Linked DNA regions of Homo sapiens. The protein of the gene in region 1 purifies or fractionates together with the protein of each later gene. This does not show direct contact. Each region holds a gene or a part of one and is shown on either strand. Other genes may lie near its edges.

Region 1 (7,110 bases):
TATTTGTTTGCTCCTCCTCTATCCCCCTGCCAGATTTGTCTGGGAGTATCTCAGCAATAGGTCAGCATTCCTGGTTTAAAGAACAACAGCAGATCGCACCTGGTGGCTCATGCTTGTGATCCCACCACTTCAGGAGGCTGAGGCGGGTGGATCATCTGAGGTCAGGAGTTCGAGACCAGCCTGGCCAACATGGTGAAACCCTGTCTCTAGTAAAAATACAAAAATTAGCCGAATGTGGTGGCGCGTGTAATCCAGCCTACTCAGGAGGCTGAGGCAGGAGAATTGCTTGAGCTTGGGAGGCGGAGGCTGCAGTGAGCCAAGATAGCATCACTGCACTCCATCCAGCCTGGGCGACAGAGTGAGACTCCATCTCAAAAAAAAAAAAAAAAAAAAGAGCAGTGGCAGCATCCCTTTCTCAGGGCCAGAGGCTCATGTTCCTTGACTGTCTAATCAGGCTGTGAGGCAGAGTCAGCCTCCTTGGTCTCTGAGTCTCCACCATTGGTTAAATGAGCAAATGTGGGAACTGTGACTGGTGCTGGGCTGGCCACACTGACTTGTCACTAGGTGGGAGCTAGGCTCCTGAGAAGGGGAGAGTAAAGGCGAACTAGGATAGCCTGATTTCCCAACCTTTCCACTACCCCCATCCTCAGTGTGCTTTGTCTTGTAAAAAGAAAAGACTGGGGGTGCCTGTCTCCTGGGAGGGTTAAATGAGTTAATCATTTAAAGTGCTTACTGGAGAGCCTGGCACAGGAAAAGCCTCAATACATTTGAGTTAAACCCTGTGCTGTTGGGTGTGGGACTGCTGAGGGACTACTGAGCTGCAGTATTTTCTCTGAGTGAGTGATTGCAAGGGGGGTTGGGTGGGGTTGGGGTGGATTGCAGAGTAGCAGCCTGTCCAACAGAGCCCTGGGTTGGATGAAGCTTTTTTTTTTTATCAGCCAAGATACGTCTTTGTGTAAAGCATGAAGCACATCTTTCCTCTACTTTAATTATGGATAGAAGTATGGCCTAGGGTTCCATTATACACAATCAAAAGTATCCTTGGGCAGAAAAATACCACTTCCACAAGTAAACAGTGTGCTAGGTAAAGTTCACCCTACCTGGATAGAGAATACTGTCCAAAACAGTGTCCTTCATTGTTTTAAAAACTTACTTGTATTTATTTCTGATCATAAAAGTAATAAATATTCTTTTTTTTTAGAAAAGATTGATGCTGTAAATAAGATAAACAAATTTAGTCCCCTTACCCCAACCTCTGCAATGCAAAATGTTCATTAGGTTTAGGTTTTGGTGCATTTCCTTCCAGTCTTTCATGTATTTATTTCATAGTTGTGATTATTGTACATCCATATATACATGGTGTGTATAAAATTTTGTGACCTGTGATGCTTGCATTCCATACCATCCTAAAGTTATTGCTTTTTTTTTTTTTTTTTAAGACAGGGTCTGGCTCTGTCACCCAGGCTGGAGTGCAGTGGCCCAATCTTGGCTCACTGTAACCTCTGCCTTCTGGGCCTGGGATCCTCCCATCTCAGCCTCCCAAGTGGCTGGGATTACACGTACACACCACCATGCCTGGCTAATTTTTTTGTATTTTTTGTAGAGGTGGGGTTTCACCATATTGCCCAGGGCGGTCTCGAACTCCTAAGTTCAAACGATCTGCCCTCTTTGGCCTCCCAAAGTGCTGGGATTACAGGCGTGAACCACCAGGCCCAGCTGCATAATTTTTTTTAAATTGTTGTTTTCCTATACATACATACTTTTTTCTTTTGAGACGGAGTCTCACTCTGTCACTCTGCAGTGGTGTGATCTCAGCTCACTGCAACCTCTGCCTTTCGGGTTCAAGTGATTCTCCTGCCTCAGTCTCCCAAGTAGCTGAAACTACAGGTGTGCGCCACCAGGCCTGGCTAATTTTTTTAAAAAATATATTCTCCAATTTAAAACTTTTAATTAAAAAGTAAACTTTAACATCAAAAATGCAAACTTGGAGAAGACAGAAAAGATCACACACAAGGCTGTCACTTCACACTTGGAAGGTTGCACAGCGGCCAGGCAGAGGGGCTCCTCACTTCCCAGACAGGGCAGCGGCCGGGCAGAGGCGCTCCTCACTTCCCAGACAGGGCGGTGGCCGGGCAGAGGCGCTCTTCACTTCCCAGACAGGGTGGCGGCCGGGCAGAGGCGCTCTTCACTTTCCAGACGGGGTGGCAGCTGGGCAGAGGTGCTCCTCACTTCCCAGACAGTGGCAGCTGGGCAGAGGCGCTCTTCACTTTCCAGACGGGGCGGCAGCTGGGCAGAGGCACTCCTCACTTCCCAGACAGTGGGCAGCTGGGCAGAGGCGCTCCTCACTTTCCAGATGGGGCAGCAGCTGGGCAGAGGCACTCCTCGCTTCCCAGACATTGGGCAGCTGGGCAGAGGTGCTCCTCACTTCCCAGACAGTGGGCAGCTGGGCAGAGGCGCTTCTTACTTCCCAGATGGGGCGGCAGCTGGGCAGAGGTCCTCCTCACTTCCCAGATGGTGGGCAGCCGAGCAGAGGCGCTCCTCACTTCCCAGTCAGTTGGGTGGCTGGGCAGAGGCACTCCTCACTTCCCAGATGGTGGGGCGGCCGGGCAGTGGCGCTCCTCACATCCCAGATGGGGCGGTGGCTGGGCAGGGCGCTCCTCACTTCCCAGACGGAGTGGCAGGCCTGGCTAATTTTTGTATTGTTAGTAGAGACAGGGTTTCACCATACTGGCCAGGTTGGTCTCGAACTCCTGAACTCGTGATCCACCCACCTTGGCCTCCCAAAGTGTTTGGATTACAGGCGTTAGCCACTTCACCTGGCCTTCCTATACATATATACTTAAAAAAAACAAAAACAAAAAAATAGACCAGGCACGATGGCTCACGCCTGTAATCCCAGCACTTTGGGAGGCCAAGTGGGCGGATCACCTGAGGTTGGGAGTTCGAGACCAGCCTGACCAACATGGAGAAACCCCGTTTCTACTAAAAATACAAAATTAGCCAGGCATGGTGGTGCGCGCCTGTAACCCCAGCTACTTGGGAGGCTGAGGCAGGAGAATCACTTGAACCTGGGAGGCCGACCTTGCAGTGAGCGGAGATTGAGCCATTGCACCCCAGCCTGGGCAACAAGAGCAAAACTCTGTCTCAAAGGAAAAAAGAAATTAATAGACTTTTATTTTTTACAGCAGTTTTAAATTTACAGAAAAACGAGTAGAAAGTACAGAATTCCCATTACTCCCTCATTCCTCTTCCCAAGTTTCCTTTTCTTCTTTTTTTTTTTTAAGACAGAGTCGCCCAGGCTAGTGTACAGTGGCATGCTCACAGCTCACGGCTCACTGCAGCTTTGACCTCCTGGGCTCAAGCAATCCTCCCACCTCAGCCTCCTTGGTAACTAGGACTACAGGCATGTTCCTCCACACCTGGCTAATTTTTGTATTTTTTGTAGAGATGAGGTTTTGCTCTGTTGCCTAGGCTGGTCTCAGACTCCTGGGCTCACGCAATTTACCCACCTCAACCTCCCAAAGTGCTGGGATTACAGGCATGAGCCACCATGCCTGTAATAGGCCATTTCCCCTGTTATTAACATTTTGCATTAGTATGTCATATTTTGTTACAACTGATGAGCCAATGTTCATGTGTTATTATAAACTAAAGTACACAATTTACATGAGGGTTCACTCTTTGCATATCCTGTTTTGAATGCTAGTGCAACTTAACATGTTGTCTTTTGACTAGAAACGTCTATTGTATGTGTCTATTTATCTAGGGTAAATACAAACATTTGAAAAAAAAAGAATTTATGTGAATTCAGGGTCTTGTCTTTTCCTGAACTGGTTTTTATTCTGAGACTGAGTCTTGCTCTTGCCTAGGCTGGAGTGCACTGGCATGATCTTGGCTCACTGCAACCTCTGCCTCCTAGACTCAAGTGATTCTCCTGCCTCATCTTCCTGAGTAGCCGGGACTACAGGCATGAGCCACCATGCCCGGCTAATGTTTTTTTTTTGTATTTTTTAGTAGAGAACAGGGTTTCACCATGTTGGCCAGGTTGGTCTTGAACTCCTGACCTCAAGTGATCTGCCCACCTCTGCCTCCCAAAGTACAGGCATGAGCCACCACACCTGGAATGAACTGGTTTTTAAATCTATCTTTGCCCTAGGGAGTGCCAGCTGACATTATGATCTTTCTTAAATATTGGGCTGTACTTTTTTTGTTGCTATTTTCACATTCAGGATCTCATTTGGCAGTCAACTCTTACCCACCATGCCAGCCTCTGCACCTAACATCCTTTCTCATACTTCTGGTGCTTTTTAGACCTCCCAACAAATAGAATGGGGGTGCTACGTGGGAACAGGTTGCTTTCCTGGGTAATAGTAGAGTCAGCTGGGGATCCTACTTGTTTGATTTTGAGTTAAGCAATTGAGTTCAAGGTTTAGGGAAGAGGCAGAGTTTTTCCTAATTGTGCTCTGGGGCTCCTCCCTGGGGCAGGGACTTAGAGAGGCTCGGTAAGAACAGACCAAAGCTTGACCCCCTTCTCGTCACAGAAGCTTTCCCATCTCGATCCTCCCTCACGTGAGGCTTCTCTGCTTGGCCCTCATCCATTTGGCTGACCTTGACTGTGTTAGGACAAACCACTGTTTCATGTAGTTCATTTGAGTTAATTCTAGAATTTTTCTTTTTCTTTTTTTTTTTGAGACAGAGTTTTGCTCTTGTTGCCCAGGCTGGAGTGCAATGGTGCCATCTCGGCTCACTGCAAGCCCTGCCTCCCCGGTTCAAGCGATTCTCCTACCTCAGCCTACCAAGTAGCTGGGATTACAGGTGCCCGCCACCAATTTTTTAAATATTTTTAGCAGAGATGGGGTTTCACCACGTTGGCCAGGCTGGTTTTGAATTCCTGACCGCAAGCCATCCACCCGCCTTGGCCTCCCAAAGTGCTAGGATTACAGGCATGAGCCACTGTGACTGGCCAATTCTAGAATTTTTCAAAGGGAACATTTTTCTTTAAGGAAAATGGAAACAAAGTGAAACATATGGAAAGGTAGTTTATAGAAATTGATTTCTTTCTAAGGAATAGACTTGCTGCTTTCTTCCATGAGCCAGTTTCAGCACAGAATGTAGCCCATTTCTGCCGTCTGCATCCCCATGTGTCCTCATTTTCCCTCCCATCTCTGGTGAGAAAGAGTAGGAGTCTCTCTGTTCTTGAAGACAGGGAACTGTTTTTTTTTTTCTTTCTTTTTTCTTTTTTTTGAGACAGTCTTACTCTGTCACCCAGGCTGGAGTGCAGTGGTGCGATCTCGGCACACTGCAACCTCTGCCTCCTGGGTTCAAGTGATTCTCCTGCCTCAATCTCCTGAGTAGCTGGGATTACAGGTACCAAGCGTGGCTAATTTTTGTATTTTTAGTAGAGACAGGGTCTCACCATGTTGGCCAAGCTGGTCTTGAACTCCTGATCTCAAATGATCCACCTGCCTCGGCCTCCCAAAGTGCTGGGAATACAGGCGTGGAACCACAGCCCCCGGCCATAATTTTCCAAAACCACTTTCTCTTGCTTTTCAGCCTTTGCATATGCTCTGTACCCCTCTAACCCCATGCTTTTCCTCCACTTTGCCTACCTCTTCACAACACCTGGCATGCTTTAGGTCTTAGCCCTAAACTTCTAAACTTGTAAAAAGCCTACTTCAGGTTGCTCCAGTTGTGAAATCTAGCTCCCCTTTCATGGCATTTGCCACATTAGATTGTAATTGCCTGTTTCTTGCCTTTATCACCCCCATGGACTGTCAGCTCTATAGAGGGCAAGAATTGTAACTGCCTCATTTGCAGTAGAATATCCAGGGATTAGCACAGTATCTGGCACATAGAACATATGCAATAATTATTTGTTGAAAGACTGACTGAATAAAATGTGTCCAGAATGGGAGGTAAAAGGCCATGTATACTGGCCATTCTGAGTTGAAATTAACCAACTTAACTAAGCTTATAAATGTGCTGACTAAATTCAATTGAAACATCATTAAACCCACACCATGTGCTAGGAAATGTATAGGTTATGTGCTGATTGATATAATGCTACAGGTTTTTGTTTCCTGTTTCCAAAAGTGTGCATATGTTGTGAAAATGACAGACATTGCAAACATATAAATTGTGGATGAAAATCTGTTATAATTTCATTCCCCACAAAAAACCATTGTGAACAGCTTGGTATATGTTGCTCCAAATTTAAGCAAAAGTTTACTTACCATAAGTGTTTTCTTGTTTTGTATTATTCTATTATAGCTTTTCAATGTTTTCCCATAAAAATCGACCTTATTTTATCACTGTTCCGTAATTAACCAATCATGTGCTGATGGACAGTTGGTTTCTTTTTTTCTTTACTAGAAACAGCACTGCAATGAATATCATTGTACCTATACTTTTGCATACTTATGTATATAAGCTCAGTTTCTGTAAGCAGAGCTGCTTAGTTAAAGGGTAGGAATGTCATGCCTGTAATCCCAGCACTTTGGGAGGCCGAGGCAGGCGGATTACCTGGGATCAGGAGTTCGAGACCAGCCTGACCAACATGGTGAAACCCCATCTCTGCTAAAAATACAGAAAATTAGCCGGGCGTGGTGGCAGGCGCCTGTAATGCCAGCTACTTGGGAGGCTGAGGCAGGAGAATCACTTGAACCCAGGAGGCAGAGGTTGCACTGAGCCGAGATCGCGCCACTGCACTCAAGCCTGGGCGTGACAGAGCGAGACCCCGTCTCAAAAAATAAATAGATAAAACAAAGGGTAGGAATGTTTTAAATGTTAATAGATTGCAAAGTGACCATCCAGAGAAGCTGTACTAAGAGACAGTGATACACTTGGGGAGAAGAGAGAGCAAGGAAGAACCTTGAGCTCACAGCCAAGCTCTGTGAGGCAAGTGTGAGCAGTGCTGTGATTAGGAGCAGTGGGAGTTAGGGGGAGGGTGTGATTGGCTTCTGCCTGGGGGAAGGTTTCATGGAGGGGAATGTTCCTTTTACCTGTACTTTATTATTTTTTTTGAGACAGAATTTCACTCTTGTCATCCAGGCCGGAGTGCAATGGCGGGATCTCAGCTCCCTGCAACCTCCCCCTCCGGGGTTCAAGTGA
Region 2 (7,239 bases), on another chromosome or scaffold:
CTTCTGGAAGGAGCTTATTGATAGGCACAGAGTATGGGTGAGTCTTCATCCCAGGCCTCAGCCAAACTCTGGGAAACACTCTGCATTCCCTGGCAGACAGCTGCAACCCCAAGCAGCTCCATAGGAAAACTGCAGAATGGCAGAAAATGCAAGGGAAGCCAATATGGAAAGGGCTTTTTCCACATGCTGACAGTTTTCTTCACAAGTATCACAATGAAGCTATTTGAGAATCAGCTTGCAAAGCACCTGGCTCTAAATAGCCTTCTCTCCCTAGTCCTTAAGTAGAGACAAAGCAGCTCCTTTTATCCTCTAGAAGTGCCCTTTCCTAGGGCCTGACCCACAAATGGGTGCTCAAAACCTAGTTGAATGAATGAATGAACAGATGAATGAAGATGGCTACACACACTTCTTATTTCCCTTGATTGCCTTAGACCAGGACACGGCAGATTTTTCGCAAAGGGCTGGAAGGTAAATATTGTTGTCTTTTCAGGTCACAGAGTCTCTGTCACAGCTACTCAGCTCTGCTGTTGTAGCTCACAGACAGCCATAGACAATGCATAAATAAATAGGCCTGGCTGTGTTCCCATAAAATTTTATTTATGCACAGTAAAATTTGAATTTTATGTAGTTTCTATGTGTCACATAACATTATTCTTCTTGTGAATTTTTTTAACCATTTAATATGTAAAACCAATCTTAGCTCATGGTCATAGGAAAACATGATGAACTACATTTGGTCTATGAGCTATAGTTTGTCAACCTTTGGCTTAGACTCTTTTTTAAAAAAAAATTATTTATAAATAGAGATGGGGTTTCGCCATGTTGGCCAGGCTGGTCTCGAACCCCTGGCCTCAAGTGATCTGCCCGCCTCAGCCTCCCAGAATACTGGGATTACAGGTGTGAGCCACCACTCCGGGCCCTTTGGTTTAGACTTTTCCTTTCTGTTTTTCATTTTAAATATTTTCTTCTTAGTACCAGAGTAATATATATTCATTACAGAATAATTAGAAATTAGTGACATTGTAAAGTTTATCCTCTATTAAAAATAAACCCAAGGGGATAAAAAGAAATTACTGACATGGACATGCAAATAAAGTAATATTAGAATAATCTATAATTTCAATACACAAAAATAACCATTCTCCTACTGAACACAGTTTTTCACTCAGCATTGCTAGCTAGCTATATCGGTGCCTTTTAATATGATAGCCACTAGCTACCTGTTACTGTTACACCTTAAATTAAAATTAGATACAGGCTGGGCGTGGTGGTTCACACCTGTAATCCCAGCACTTTGGGAGGCTGAGGCAGGCAGATCACTGGAGGCCAGGAGTTTGAGACCAGCCTGGCCAACATGACGAAACCCTGTCTCTACTAAAAATTAAAAAATTAAACAACGAGCCAGGCGTGGTGGAGCACGCTTGTAATCCCAACTACTCAGGAGGCTTAGGCAGGAGAACCGCTTGAACCTGGGAGGCAGAGGTTGCAGCGAGCTGAGATCACACCACTGCACTCCAGCCTGGGTGACAGAGCGAGACTCCGTCTCTAAAAAAATAAATAAATAGATACAATTAAAATACAGTTATTCGGTTAACTAGTCATTGCTTTTTCCAAAATTTTAAATTTATTTTTCCCTTTTCCTTTTTTTATTATTTCTTTCTTTCTTTTTTTTTTTTAAACATCTTGGATACCAAAATTAGTCATTTCAGGTGTTCAATACCTCCATGTGGCTAGTGGCTACCACACGGGACGGCACAGATATAGAGCATCATAGAAAGTTATATTACACAGCATTGATCTAGCTCTACCTGGTAGATTTAACAAAAAGTAAGATGTTTAACAAAAAGTAAGACAGTACCAAATATACTGTTTTTGCAAATAACTTAACATTTTGAGATTTGTTTTGTTTTGTTTTTGAGACAGGGTCTCACTCTGTCACCCAGCTGGAGTACAGTGGTGTAATCTTGGCCCACAGCAGCCTCAACCTCCCAGGCTCAAGGCTGCCTCAGTCTCCTGAGTAGCTGGGACTACATGCATGCGCCACATCGCCCGGATAATTTTTGTATTTTTTGTAGAGACAGGGTTTCACTATGTTACCCAGGCTGGTCTTGAACTCCTTGGCTCAAGCGATCCTCTTGCCTTGGCTTCCCAAAGTGCTGGAATTACAGGCGTGTCACCACACCCAGCCCCATTCAATATTTCATACCTATGTTTATTGTTCAATTTCATGCAACAATTTCCCTCTGAGTCCCTGCTGTTGTGCATTCAAGTTGTTCCCAGTTTTTCCCTGTGATAAACAAAATGGTAGTAAGCTACTTTATCATTAAATCTTTGTACCTTTAAATGTTTTCAGATAAGTTCATAGGGATTGGATTGCTAGATCAAAGGGTCAACTTACTTTTAAGATTTTTAAAATAGAAATACCCAATTTCCCTCCAGAAAGGCTGTGATCTTTCTACTGCCATCATCAATACATGAAACTCCTTGAAGTCTTTGCAAAGAATAGTAATTATAATAATAAAAACAAGGTCATTTTGGTAGGTAAACTCTTTCCCTCTTTTGGTTTTAACTTGCCTTTCCTTTTCAAAGTGTCATCTCCCATGTTTATTGGCCGTTGTATTTCTTTGGGCAGGTCAAGGGTAGTAAAGGGGATTATGTTCATGGCTTTGGTTTTAAGAAAAAATTGCTAGATTTTCAGCACAGGCCTCATCAAGTTCCTCAAGCAAGGTGACAATCACCCAGGCTAGAGTGCAGTGGTGCCATCTCACCTCAGTGCAACCACTGCCTCTCCATTCAAGCGATTCTCATGTCTCAGCCTCCCAGGTAGCTGGGATTACAGGCAGGTGCCACCATGCCAGGCTAATTTTTGTATTTTTAATAGAAAGGGGGTTTCCCCATGATGGCCAGGCTGGTCTCGAGCTCTGGGCATCAAGTGATCTGCCTGCCTCGGCCTCCCAAAGTGCTGGAATTACAGGCGTAAGCCACTGTGCCAGGCCTCAATTATTCTTATTTACTGCTCTGTGTGTGTGTGTGTGTGTGTGTGTGTGTGTGTGTGTGTGTGTTGGGGGGGAGGGTCCCCAGAGGTGACACTAGGAGGTGAATGATTTGTTTGGCAGCTTTCTATTTATCTATGTGTTTACTTTATCTTAATTCTTTAATTGCAAGGACTATAGCGCTTGTGTAATCAGAGATAGGGCAGCCTGGATTCCTGGACAGCAGGAGGAGAGACCTCAGGGTTCTACAAGACTCCACAGACCAAGTTATCAGTGATCAGGGTGAGTGGGGAGAACCAAGCTGAACTCTTTCTCTGCCTTTAAGGTCTGTACTCTCCATCCATCCATTCATTCATTATGAGGACTTGGTGATCGCCTGTTGTCTTGATGAGCAGTTCTTTGTGTCTTTGATTTTGTCACTGAAAGATTGCATCCTCTTTCCAAATACCTCTAGAAAGCTGTGGGGGGGCTATCCATCCGTCACACCTGAGTATTAATTATCTTCCACACAGCATTTTATACAACGGTAGAAAGGCACCTTCATCATATCTAGGGTCTCGTTTATACCCACGAAGGAGGTACAATCTCTGTTGTCCCAATTTCAGGAAATTGAGGATCAGGAGGCGCAGTGACCTGCTCCAGGTCATGCAGAAGGAACCACCTCTGACTCCCAGCGCCCTGTTTGTCTTCCGGAGCGCTGGGGCCAGGCGGAGGAAAGTAGCTGGGAGCAAGAAGGGCTGGCAGGGCCCTGAGCGCCGAGATGGGGAGTGAGGTGGGGAGGGCGGGATGCTCCTTCCCTTCTCCGCAAAGGAACCCCTTCTGATTCCGACTCTGGAGCTCCAGAGACCGGATCCGAGACGCGGGTGGAGGTGGAGTTACACTCGCCTGCAGCCCTGAGGGTGTAAATGGCCCATTAAGATCCAGGTTAAATCAACCTATGGAGCTGCCCCCCAGAGGGTCAGGGTCCCCACAACTTGACGGGGGTCCTCAGCCGTCTCCTCCCCAGTCCCAGGACTCCCTCCCAGCCCTCGCGGTCCCTCTGGTGGGTCCCGCCCCAGCCCCCGTCTCCCCCGCCCCCGGAGGCTGGACTCTGCCCCCGCCCCGCCTGCCACCTCCCTCCTGGGGGCGGTGGCCCGTGGCGGGCGCACCCATTGGCTGTGGCGAAAGCGAGGGCCGGGGCTGGCGGCGCTGATTGGCCGGGACGCTCGGCGGAGCCAGGGAGTCCGGCGAGTCGCTGGGGGAAGTCGAGCAGACACCCAGCGCTGCCGGAACTCGGGGCGCGCATCCCGCAAGTCGGAACCCGGCGGATCGGATCCCGCAGATCGGAGACGGGGCCTGGAGGTGAGCGCGAGGCGCCGGGTGGCTTGGGACGGGCCCTTCCGAGGGGAGCCGAGAGGAGGTCCTTCTGCCCTGCCCCCAGGAGCAAAACCTGGGCATCTTCTCCTGGAAACGGAGCCCTCATCTTCCCAAGACGCGGGGCCCTCCCCCGAAAAGACAGGGGCTCCCACCCCCCAGAGAGCAAAATACCTTCCTTTCTCCTTCAGAAATGGGCCCTTCCTCCTGGCTCCAGCTCTAGACAGAAGTCCTCTCCCTTTTACCGCTTGAAATAGAATGCGGCCCCAAAAAGTGGTCTCCAGGTCTCTAGAGCCCCCTCACCTCTTGGGAGACTGATGCCCCTTCCCCATCCTTAGAAAACTAAGTTTGGGTGTCTTCCTTCTCCCCTCTCTTTCGGAATAATGGGGGTCTTCTCAGCTTATAAATTACAGTGACCTCCCCCTCCATGACAAATGGAAGCTCTCCCCCCATCATAAGACAAGGAAATCCCGGAGCAGAGACTCTGCAAGTCACCCTCCCACCCCAGATACTGGGCTCTGGAGAGATAGATGATTCACCCTTAGCCCTGCCGGAGACCCCTCCCTACCCGTCAGAGAGGCAGGGTGGCCTCTGACACCACCACATTAAAGGCTTTTGGGGATTTCCCCTCTCCTCCCCAGTAAAGATGTAAAATGAGGGACCTTCATACTCAGGAGCAGGGCAAAGGTCTGGCCACCCCTCCAAGTCATCCACCTCCCTCCACTCCACCCAAGCCCTTTCACACAAACCCCATCCTAGTAACCCCCTGCACCATCCTCCCACCGCTCCCAATCCCATCCTTCTCCACCTCACCCCAACTCCACTCCCACACCTGGCTGCCCCACCTATTTCACATCCTCTCACCTTTCCTCACCCACCCTGGCCAAGGTAAGACTAGAGGGGGTTCAGCGAGATTTAGTAAGACTGGAGCTCTTAAAACTGGGATCTGGGGCCTAGAGGCCCTTCCAGGAGTCTTCAAACTCTGACAACAGAGATGGCCTCTGAGGCAGCAGGACCAGCAGAGACCACCCGCCACCTCTCCCCCGCTCCCTGCCCCAACACACGCACAAAGGCTGTGTTCAATGCATTCTCTCTTGCAGTCTGGGAGGACAGCTGGCCCTCTTCCAAGAGGGCCCGCATTTCCCCCCTAAAGTGTGCACCCCCGCAAGCGCCTGTGGACATTGCCTGGTGGAATTCCCTGGGCACTCAGCCAAGAGAAATGGGTGCTGCTGGGCCCATCCACTGGGGAGGAGACAGTGTTGGCTTTGCTGCTTTGATGAAGCTAGACTAAGGGACAGGATGTTGGTGACCTGGGGGTGGGGAGGGGGTGGGAAGAGCTCTTCTCTGGTGGGTCAGGTTGGGAGGCAGGAGAGAGGGAGGCAGTGAGTTGTGTCTTGCTCTTTGGAGCCTGTGTTGCGGCGTGGAGTCATAGAGAAATGTGTTTTCTCGAGGCCCAAAGAGGTTAGCCACGGGGAGAGGTAAATGGTCCAGTCTGGAGTCCTAAGACCTAAAAGGGCTTCTGCATTAAAGACGTGGCCCCTTCATTTGACAGTTAAACACACAGAGGCACAAAAGGGGAAGAGACTTGCTCAAGGTCACCCAGCCTGTGGGAGACAGCTGGCCCCAACCCCTCCAGGACCCTTAAGGTGCTAGGATCCCTGACACAAGCCCCAGTCCTCACATTTACAATGGGGACTTGGGGACTGCTGGGTCCCAAGTCCCCACTTGTCAGAGGAAGCGCCAAGGCTCTGCAAAGGTCATGAAGCCAGGAAGGGGCAGAGCTGGAACTCAATGCCATCCCCCAGCAGGCTGCCTCGTGGAATCCATTCCTGGGTGTCAGCGCATCCCTGCTTACCCCGTGCGATCTTTGTGTTGAGGCCATTGCCAAATCTAGGCTTGCCAAAATCCAAACTGACCCAGGATAGCTAATAAGATCAGTTGCAGCTAATGAGAATGAGATGCTGGAGTGGAGGCTACTGCAGGAACCTCACTTGCATAGCTGGGTTTGCTCCAAGAACTTTGGACAGGTCCTGAGGATGTCATATTCCTTCCCTCCAAGGTCCCCTCCCTCTTAGCCCCTGCCCACGCCCTCTGGCTTTGAGTTCCCTGCACATTGTCTCATCTCTGTTCAGAGGCCTGCGTCTTTTCTCCTGGGGCATTGCATGGGAAAAGAGCTGAAATTCTGGCAGATTCTCTAGGACCACCCAGCTGGGCAGCATGGTCTGAAGTAGAGGCTCTCTCTGTTTCTGCCCCCACCCAGTTCCCAGCTAAAGGATTGGTTGTTGTGCCCCAACTTTGCCAAGGCGAAGTTCAAAGCATGAGGAGGACCACGGTAGAGAGGCCGAGAGGTTGGTCCCTGGAGACCTCTTATCTGGGTCGAGAGCACAAATCTGCCACTTAGTGTCTGATCTTAACCTCTCTGTGACATATCCTTGGGGTAAAATGAGTTAATCCTCATAAAATGTTTAGCACACAGCAAAATGAGCAGAAACAATGATTACAAGTGCAAAGTCATAAAACCTCTAATCATGAAGTGGGGAGGTGCTTATGCCTTAAGGCAAAACTTGTAACCCTTGCCGTAGATAATCTGCCAGGGCCAAGGTGCCTGGGGACAAGGGGATGTCTTCCTAGAGAGACAGTGTAGTATGTGGAATGGACCACAGACCCTGAAGCCAGATGGAGTAGAGAGTTGGCCACTGGTAGTGGCTGTCTATGGAAACTTAGGCAAGTCATTCATGTCTCTGAACCTCAGTTCCTCGTCTTTGAATGAGGTTTGTTGGGGTTGGACATCAGAAAAGAGACAGGTCTAGATGAGGGGTTCTCATTTTGGGCACTGTTGACAGTTGGGTCAGAGGATTCTTTGTTGTGGGACTCCCCTGTGTATTGTAGGATA
Region 3 (7,110 bases), on another chromosome or scaffold:
AGGAATTCTCCCTTACTGTGGTTGAAAGTTTTTGTAAGTATAAAGTAATATGAGTTCTAGCCCATTGTTTTATTTAGAGAGAGGAATACTCAGCAGCTGCTTTTATGTTACTTTTTTCTTGTTAATGGCCAAATCCTTACTCTCTAAGGAACATTTTTGTTTTTAGAGAAAGAGAAAAAAAATTCTAAATATTAGCTGTATCTTTGAATATTAGCCGTTTCAAATGTTATATTATGCATAAACAGCAATGCATGTGAAAGGGAATTAAGTGTAAATACCAACACCTGGATGCTTTTTATACTTGTAGTTCAACTAATTAACAAATTAAATGAAACCTAAATTTAGTATTTCTGATCTGGGAGTTGAATATCAATTTTTGCAATAGTGTATGATAAAATTGTATGTAAATATTTTTCATCGTTGGTTACTGAATTCATGTAATTCTGTCTGTTTGGAGTTGTACATTCTGGACCATGACATAAAAGCTAATAGACAAAATAGTGAAACACAACCAGTGGTTCTATAGCCAAGTAAGTTTCATCCTACCTCTAATTGATTCTGAGCGAGAAAGAGAGGCAGGGGCCAGAATAGGAGGGGAAATAGACTTAGTCTTATGTTAGGAGTTGAGCAGCTTGTACTACTAGAAACCTAAAACCCTACTGCCATGTTTATTCATGAATTTATTATTTAATATACCATTTGACGATATTTACATTCTTAATTTGGAAAGGAAAATGTTCTGCTTGAAGAGATAGTATATAGTAGATGAGTTGCACACTGTTTTATAAAGTTCATTCCAACATGCAGCCAAGGATGAGAACCACTGTTAGCAAAAGTGGTGAATTTCATTAGAGGATTCATCTTGAGTAGTGTTGAGAGATTTTAGTTAGGCTTTTTATACTGTTTTAAGGCTTTGGTGAGATTTCTAGCTTAGGAGCCTAATTACTATTTATACCAGTTCTTGTGAATACATGTGATTCTCATAAAAAAGAAATGTATTATAATTGCCTTTTAGGAAATGTCTTTCAAAATTGCCTATTAAAATGTTAATATTAACCTTTATGGATTGACTTAAAAATCACTGGAACTACTAGTTTATTTATAAGTCCATTTATGGCATTTATACATTTTTAGGATCTTTAAAAGGTAGTTTCTTATACAACTTATTTATTGTACAACATAGAGAAAGCAGCTTAGGAATTCCTAAAGTGGATTCTTAATTTGGAATATTAGAAATGACACCATATCTTCTAGGCACTCAGAGTGATCGGTTAATGTCATACTGTTTAAAATGCTATCAGATAGTTTTTCTTCTCATTTCTGTAAATTATGTTTCTGTGGGATTGGGAAACTATGGGTTAGGAAATCAAGAGGTCAGGGATAAATTCTTAATACTTCATAATGAGAATATCTAAATAGAAACACACAGTATTTCAGATCTTCAACTGTTGTATTTGCCAATAAATTACCTGAAAGACAAAGCATTTGAACATCCAGGAGCTGCCATATCATGACTGGGTGTCATGGCAACCACTGCCATTTCTTTTCTGTCCTAAGGTCAGATCAAAGCAAGCCGAGCCCTCCTGCTCTGAATCTATCGTGGACAGTTGTGTTAGAATATGGTGAACCAGTGACTCTGAAATAGTGATTATTTCTAGATGTGGTTTTGTGAAATATATTCCTGAATTATATATTGTATTACAAGAGTCATAACGGCTGTCACAGGGACAATTATCGATGTGTTAATATCTCACACTGATTAATCCTCAACAACTAATCAGAAAAATCACAGTCGCTCACTTTTTAAAAATATGTAGAATACAGTCATGTAAGTGAAGGTTTATGTTTTGTTATATTGGGAGAGAAAATTTTAGGTGAAACCAGATCTTTCTTTTTGATGACATTATTTTGGTAGGACCAGATGGATCATACTTCCTCAGGTCATCATCCAAACAAAAAAAGAAAGGTAGCACAGAGTGAATTTTGTAGTGCATCTGTTTTTATTAAGTAATTTTAATGCTGCAAAAGCAAAAATGGAGTGTATTGGAATATCAGAGTAATATTGATACAAGGACATGGAGATTTTAATCTAAATTTTAAAAGTAAATATAAATGAAATTCATATGTGTTGTAAAATGAAAATTTATTAAGTTTTCTTAAAATTCTGTGTTAATGTTCTGAGTCTGCATATGTATATATGCACTTTATATTTTTGTACTTGCTCAGCTTTTATGTTCAGCAGAACTTTCCAAACAACTTATCTATTATAGAATATCTATACTAACTAAAAGAAATAGGTTTACATTTACAAAAAAATAGGTTGTTGGGAAAGCTAAGGTATATCTATATGTCAGAATGTTAATGGCTTAAAGGCCTTTAGGTTTGACCTTGTTTAATCCTTTTATTTTACAGTAAGGGTGCTGAGGCCCAGGGTATTAAGTTTCTTGCCCAAATTTAGTTTCCTACTTAGTGACAGAGCCGAAGCTGGAACAATAAATCTTATAATTCCCTCTCAGAGTTATTTTTCATCATAGCATTCTGTTTAGAAGAAATAGGGCAACTCTGAATTTACAAATAAGCAAGTTGCTTGATTAGAAAAGTAACAAATAGTGCTCACTTTGGCAGCACATATACTAAAATTGGAATGATACAGAGATTAGCATGACCCCTGTGCAGAGATGGCACTCAAATTCATGAAGTGTTCCATATTTTAAAAAACAATACAAATTTTAAAAAGAGAGTAACAAATACCAAATATTGCCGACATACATTTTATATTTTAATGTTATTTTTTTGGTTTTGCAGCATTTCAGAAAAGAAAATTAAAGGTTTCTTTTTGCTTTTTAAGTAGTTTGGTGCAATAACTTTCTACCTGACTTTCTTGTTTTTCCTATCAGCTTATATTTATAATTCTAAGTATCACATTTGTGTGTTTTGTAGATGTGTGAAAACTGTTAATATTTAATGGCAAGCCATGTGATTGAATCATGTTTTAAATCTCCTCTAACACTATCCCAATTTGGATATTGCAAAAGGAGATGTTCCTTGTAATGCCTATTATTTTAATAATGTAGTCTAACTCATATAATACAGTATCTATGACAATATTTGCAATTACATTTTGATATCAGTGCAGTAACAGATGAAATTTATAAGCCAGTTGTAATTGACTTGTCAAACAGTAGGTCCCTGACTGATAAATAAAACCTTTAGATGAAATAACTTTTTTTCTTATAATATTTATACTCTTGTTAACCTTTGGAATTCTAAAAATGGATAGTGGATCAAATTGTTCTTGCCTATTATTTAGACTTTCTTGTGGTTTTTAGATTTACTGCGAATAATGAGTGTTTTCAGATACACCACACAATGGCAACTTGTCAGCTACTGTATTTATATGTGAGATAGACTAGTTTTAGAGATAGCCACATGATACCAACATATGAACTTCAGTCTATTAGGGGACAAATCATGGCTTTTTCAATTTCTCTTTCAGAACAAAGGAAGAATTATGCACGGGACAGTGTCAGCAGTGTGTCAGATATATCTCAATACCGTGTTGAAGTAAGATGCTTTGGTGTTTGCTAGTATTTAGAGTGACCCTTGAGGAACATAAAAATTGGAAGTTAAATCAGAATTCTGTTTTATTTCATTCTTATGATGTATTTTAAGTTGCATTGACCTTTTTGTTTAGATTTTTTAAAACAGATATTACATATAAAGTATCTTGTTAGTCTGTGGTCTATTTTCATAAAGAATGATTTAAAATCATAACTACTATCCATTTATCCTTGCCAGTCTTATTTCACTTATAATAGAATAATGGCTTTTACTTTGTACTATAGAATCTTCTTGAAATTAAGCCTTTGCTAGTTTCAGTGAGCAATTTAGTTTTTAGTTTAACTAAAGTTATTGCCAGTTCTAGTTAAATAATGGTTCTTTTTTAGTTTTTGCCCTCTTTTACGATATTTGCTCTTGATTGGAATTTATCTGGTTGACCTGTGCTTATAATAGAAAATATTTAAGCAGGGAAGTAATTTTTAAATTGCTCTTATTTTCAGTTTTCTACCTATGTCAAGCATGCTTAATCAAATTTAAACAGTTTTGTTTCAGTAAGTGGTTTTAGTGGATTGAATAGTTTGACAGTTCCTATAGACTAGAATTGTGCTGTTGCTACAATCAGTGTCCATAGTTTTGAAGCTCCCATACAGATAGCCTGCTGTTTAAATGCTGCTATGTTCAGCATTTAAATAACCATAATAGAGTGTCAAATAGGGGAAAGTTTATTTTAAGAGAATATTATTTAAGCTGTTAAGAATTTGTTTTAATGTCATGTTTATGTAGTTCAACATGGCTCCGTATGAAACAGATTTAGGTATCTTATGAGTCAAAACACCATTTCTTCTATTCAAAAAAAACCTTGGTTGGCTTTATTCTCTCATTAAAATAGTCATGAAGTTTTAAGAGTACTTTGTGTTTGTCGTTCTCTGCTAGCTGACCTCAGGTTATTTGATTTTCTTTTGGAAAATGTATACTAAGAGGTTGTATGTGTTTGTATGTGTTATAAATCTTTTTCCTTTTTGCCAATTGTAAGCACTTGACTACCTTTGTCCTGGATCGGAAAGATGCTATGATCACTGTTGATGATGGAATAAGGAAATTGAAATTGCTTGATGCCAAGGGCAAAGTGTGGACTCAAGATATGATTCTTCAAGTGGATGACAGAGCTGTGAGCCTGATTGATTTAGAATCAAAGGCAAGTGTGTAAAATTTATACTATTTTATTTTCAAGAAACTCCACAAATATTAATGTTTACAATCATTTCAGATTGTTTGAAAATGGATGGAAGTTTGACAAAATAAAATGTTCACTTTATTTATAGAATGAACTGGAGAATTTTCCTTTAAACACAATCCAGCACTGCCAAGCTGTGATGCATTCATGCAGCTATGATTCAGTTCTTGCACTGGTGTGCAAAGAGCCAACCCAGAACAAGCCAGATCTTCATCTCTTCCAGTGTGATGAGGTTAAGGTAAAAGAATGGTGAAATTTTTGTTTCTTCTTTAAGCAGATTGTCTGGGAGCTTTTGAATTACCTATTTTGATAATATATCTGCATATTAGTTACTAGATTTTTAGTTTCTGAGCATCTCGTAAGGAAAACAAATACCTTAGTATCTTCTCTAGGATTTCCATGGCAAGTAAATAAAGAAATTAGGGTGATGTTAATCAAATCAGTAGTTCACACTTGTAATCCCAGTGCTTTGGGAGGCCAAGGCTGTAAGATGGCTTGAGGCCAGGGGTTTGGGCCCAGCCTGGACAACATGGCAAGACCCAGTCTCTACTAAAAAGGTTTTAAAAATTAGCTAGATGTGGTTGTACACGCTTGTAGTCTCAGCTACTCAGTTGGCTAAGGGAGGAAGATCTCTTGAGCCAGGAGTTGGAGATTACAGTGAGCTATAATCACCCCTCTGCACTCCAGCCTGGGCAACAGATTGAGATTGTGTCTCTTAAAAATAAGATGCATTCTGTTTATTTTTTTAAAGTGTAGATAATATATTAAATTCACATCAAATGCCTTAAACTTATAATTAAAAATTGATTGTTCAGAAATCTTGCTTTGTGGACAGTAAATAATCATGTAATTTGAATTTATTCTGCACTAATGACATAGCATGGATTACTGCAATGAAGTACTTAGACATTTCCCACGATATTGATTTAAAGTTCACCATTTAATTATGTGACTTGATTCATTGCTCAGGATTTGTAATTCCCAGATGATATGTGAAAATAGTTGAGCCAGTAATAACAGGCTATATCCTGAAAGTTTCTATTTCAAAGTACAGTGTAATTTCAAATGATTATAATTTGTGATGCTTTATTGGACCTTAGAAGTTATCTTCAACCTTGAATGTGTTTATTTCCTCAGTTGTTTTCTTTAAAAGAGAAATCATTTTGTGTTAATTGGTACTTTGCCAAAGCAGTGATTTAACATTTTGATGATATATTATAAAATATCCATGTAATTTTATTTTATAAAGAAACTCTAGGAGATTAGCACAGTTACTTGATCTTTTCTGTGTTTTTTGACATTTAAAGATGATAGATAAAGTAAGATTGACTGTAAACTGTATTTTATAATTTTCTTCTAATTTCAATTTACGTCATGGATGACTTTCTAAAAACCTTCTTCTAAAAGAACTGGCATTTAGGTAATTTGTGTAAGTGATATTCATCAGATTTTTGTATAGTGCCTTTTGAAAGTCATAGTATATTATAATTTTTGTAAGGTTAGATATATTCAGTCAATAAATATTAAAGGGAATATTTTGCTTTAAAAATATAGTGAAATTTAATTCAAACATTTTTATAAACCAGAGGCCTAAGTTGAAAAACATTTCAAATTTGATGTTTGTATCTGTGTTCTAAAAAGCCCCCCCCGGGAGCTAAAAGTTACTATGCTGTGAAAAGTTTCTGGATTTTAGGTTTGGGAACAAATGGCTTGCTTTACTTGATATGGAATGGTAATGATAATGGATTCAAAATGTATTTACTGAATATAGTTTTGTCCTAACCCCAAAAGCTCACATACCACGAAGCACTGTATGCATTTACTCATTAGTTTCATACTCTGCATATGAGACATTTTTCGCTTGGCTGGTTAAAAATATAGAGGCAATGAAAAACGCAGTTTCTTTTATATGGCTCATTGTGCAATATTGCTTTTGATTTTTAAAGTTTCTTTATTATAGGACTTCATGCAATGCTCCTGCCCACCTTTGCAGTAAAATTTTTCTTAGAAATATAATAGCCCCAGTATAAGAAGTTGAAGATTCCTAGGCATCTTCAGTTTTCATTTTGGGTTTTTTTAAATAATTATTTTTAATTAAATATCTTTTCATCTTCAGTTTTAGTATCCTATGTAACAGAAAGCCTTTGACACGATATTTGTAATGTCTTATTGAAACTAAATGCTCTTAGGAAGTCACACTGGACTGGGATGCATTGGCCTCTCATTTAACTAGCAATGTGACCTTGGCCAGGCCCTTTTATACAAGTACTCCTCAGTTTTATTAATTAGAAGGAACTGATGAGATGCTCTTTTAA

What was found.
Region 2: the proteins of ALDH7A1 (region 1) and ABAT fractionate together in Homo sapiens (co-fractionation; 2 studies listed by BioGRID). This does not show direct contact.
Region 3: the proteins of ALDH7A1 (region 1) and EPS8 purify together in Homo sapiens (affinity purification with western blotting; 2 studies listed by BioGRID and IntAct, with this or other methods). This does not show direct contact.

Annotation. Positions count from the first base shown.
Region 1 is NC_000005.10:126,585,211-126,592,320, reverse strand, and holds part of ALDH7A1 (alpha-aminoadipic semialdehyde dehydrogenase isoform 1 precursor), read left to right. Parts: intron 1-7,110.
Region 2 is NC_000016.10:8,670,378-8,677,616, forward strand, and holds the start of ABAT (4-aminobutyrate aminotransferase, mitochondrial isoform 1 precursor), read left to right. Parts: upstream 1-4,239; 5' UTR 4,240-4,334; intron 4,335-7,239. UniProt on the Homo sapiens protein: Catalyzes the conversion of gamma-aminobutyrate and L-beta-aminoisobutyrate to succinate semialdehyde and methylmalonate semialdehyde, respectively. Can also convert delta-aminovalerate and beta-alanine.
Region 3 is NC_000012.12:15,667,310-15,674,419, reverse strand, and holds part of EPS8 (epidermal growth factor receptor kinase substrate 8), read left to right. Parts: intron 1-3,496; coding exon 3,497-3,564; intron 3,565-4,594; coding exon 4,595-4,756; exon of another isoform or gene 4,757-4,760; intron 4,761-4,883; coding exon 4,884-5,033; intron 5,034-7,110. UniProt on the Homo sapiens protein: Signaling adapter that controls various cellular protrusions by regulating actin cytoskeleton dynamics and architecture. Depending on its association with other signal transducers, can regulate different processes.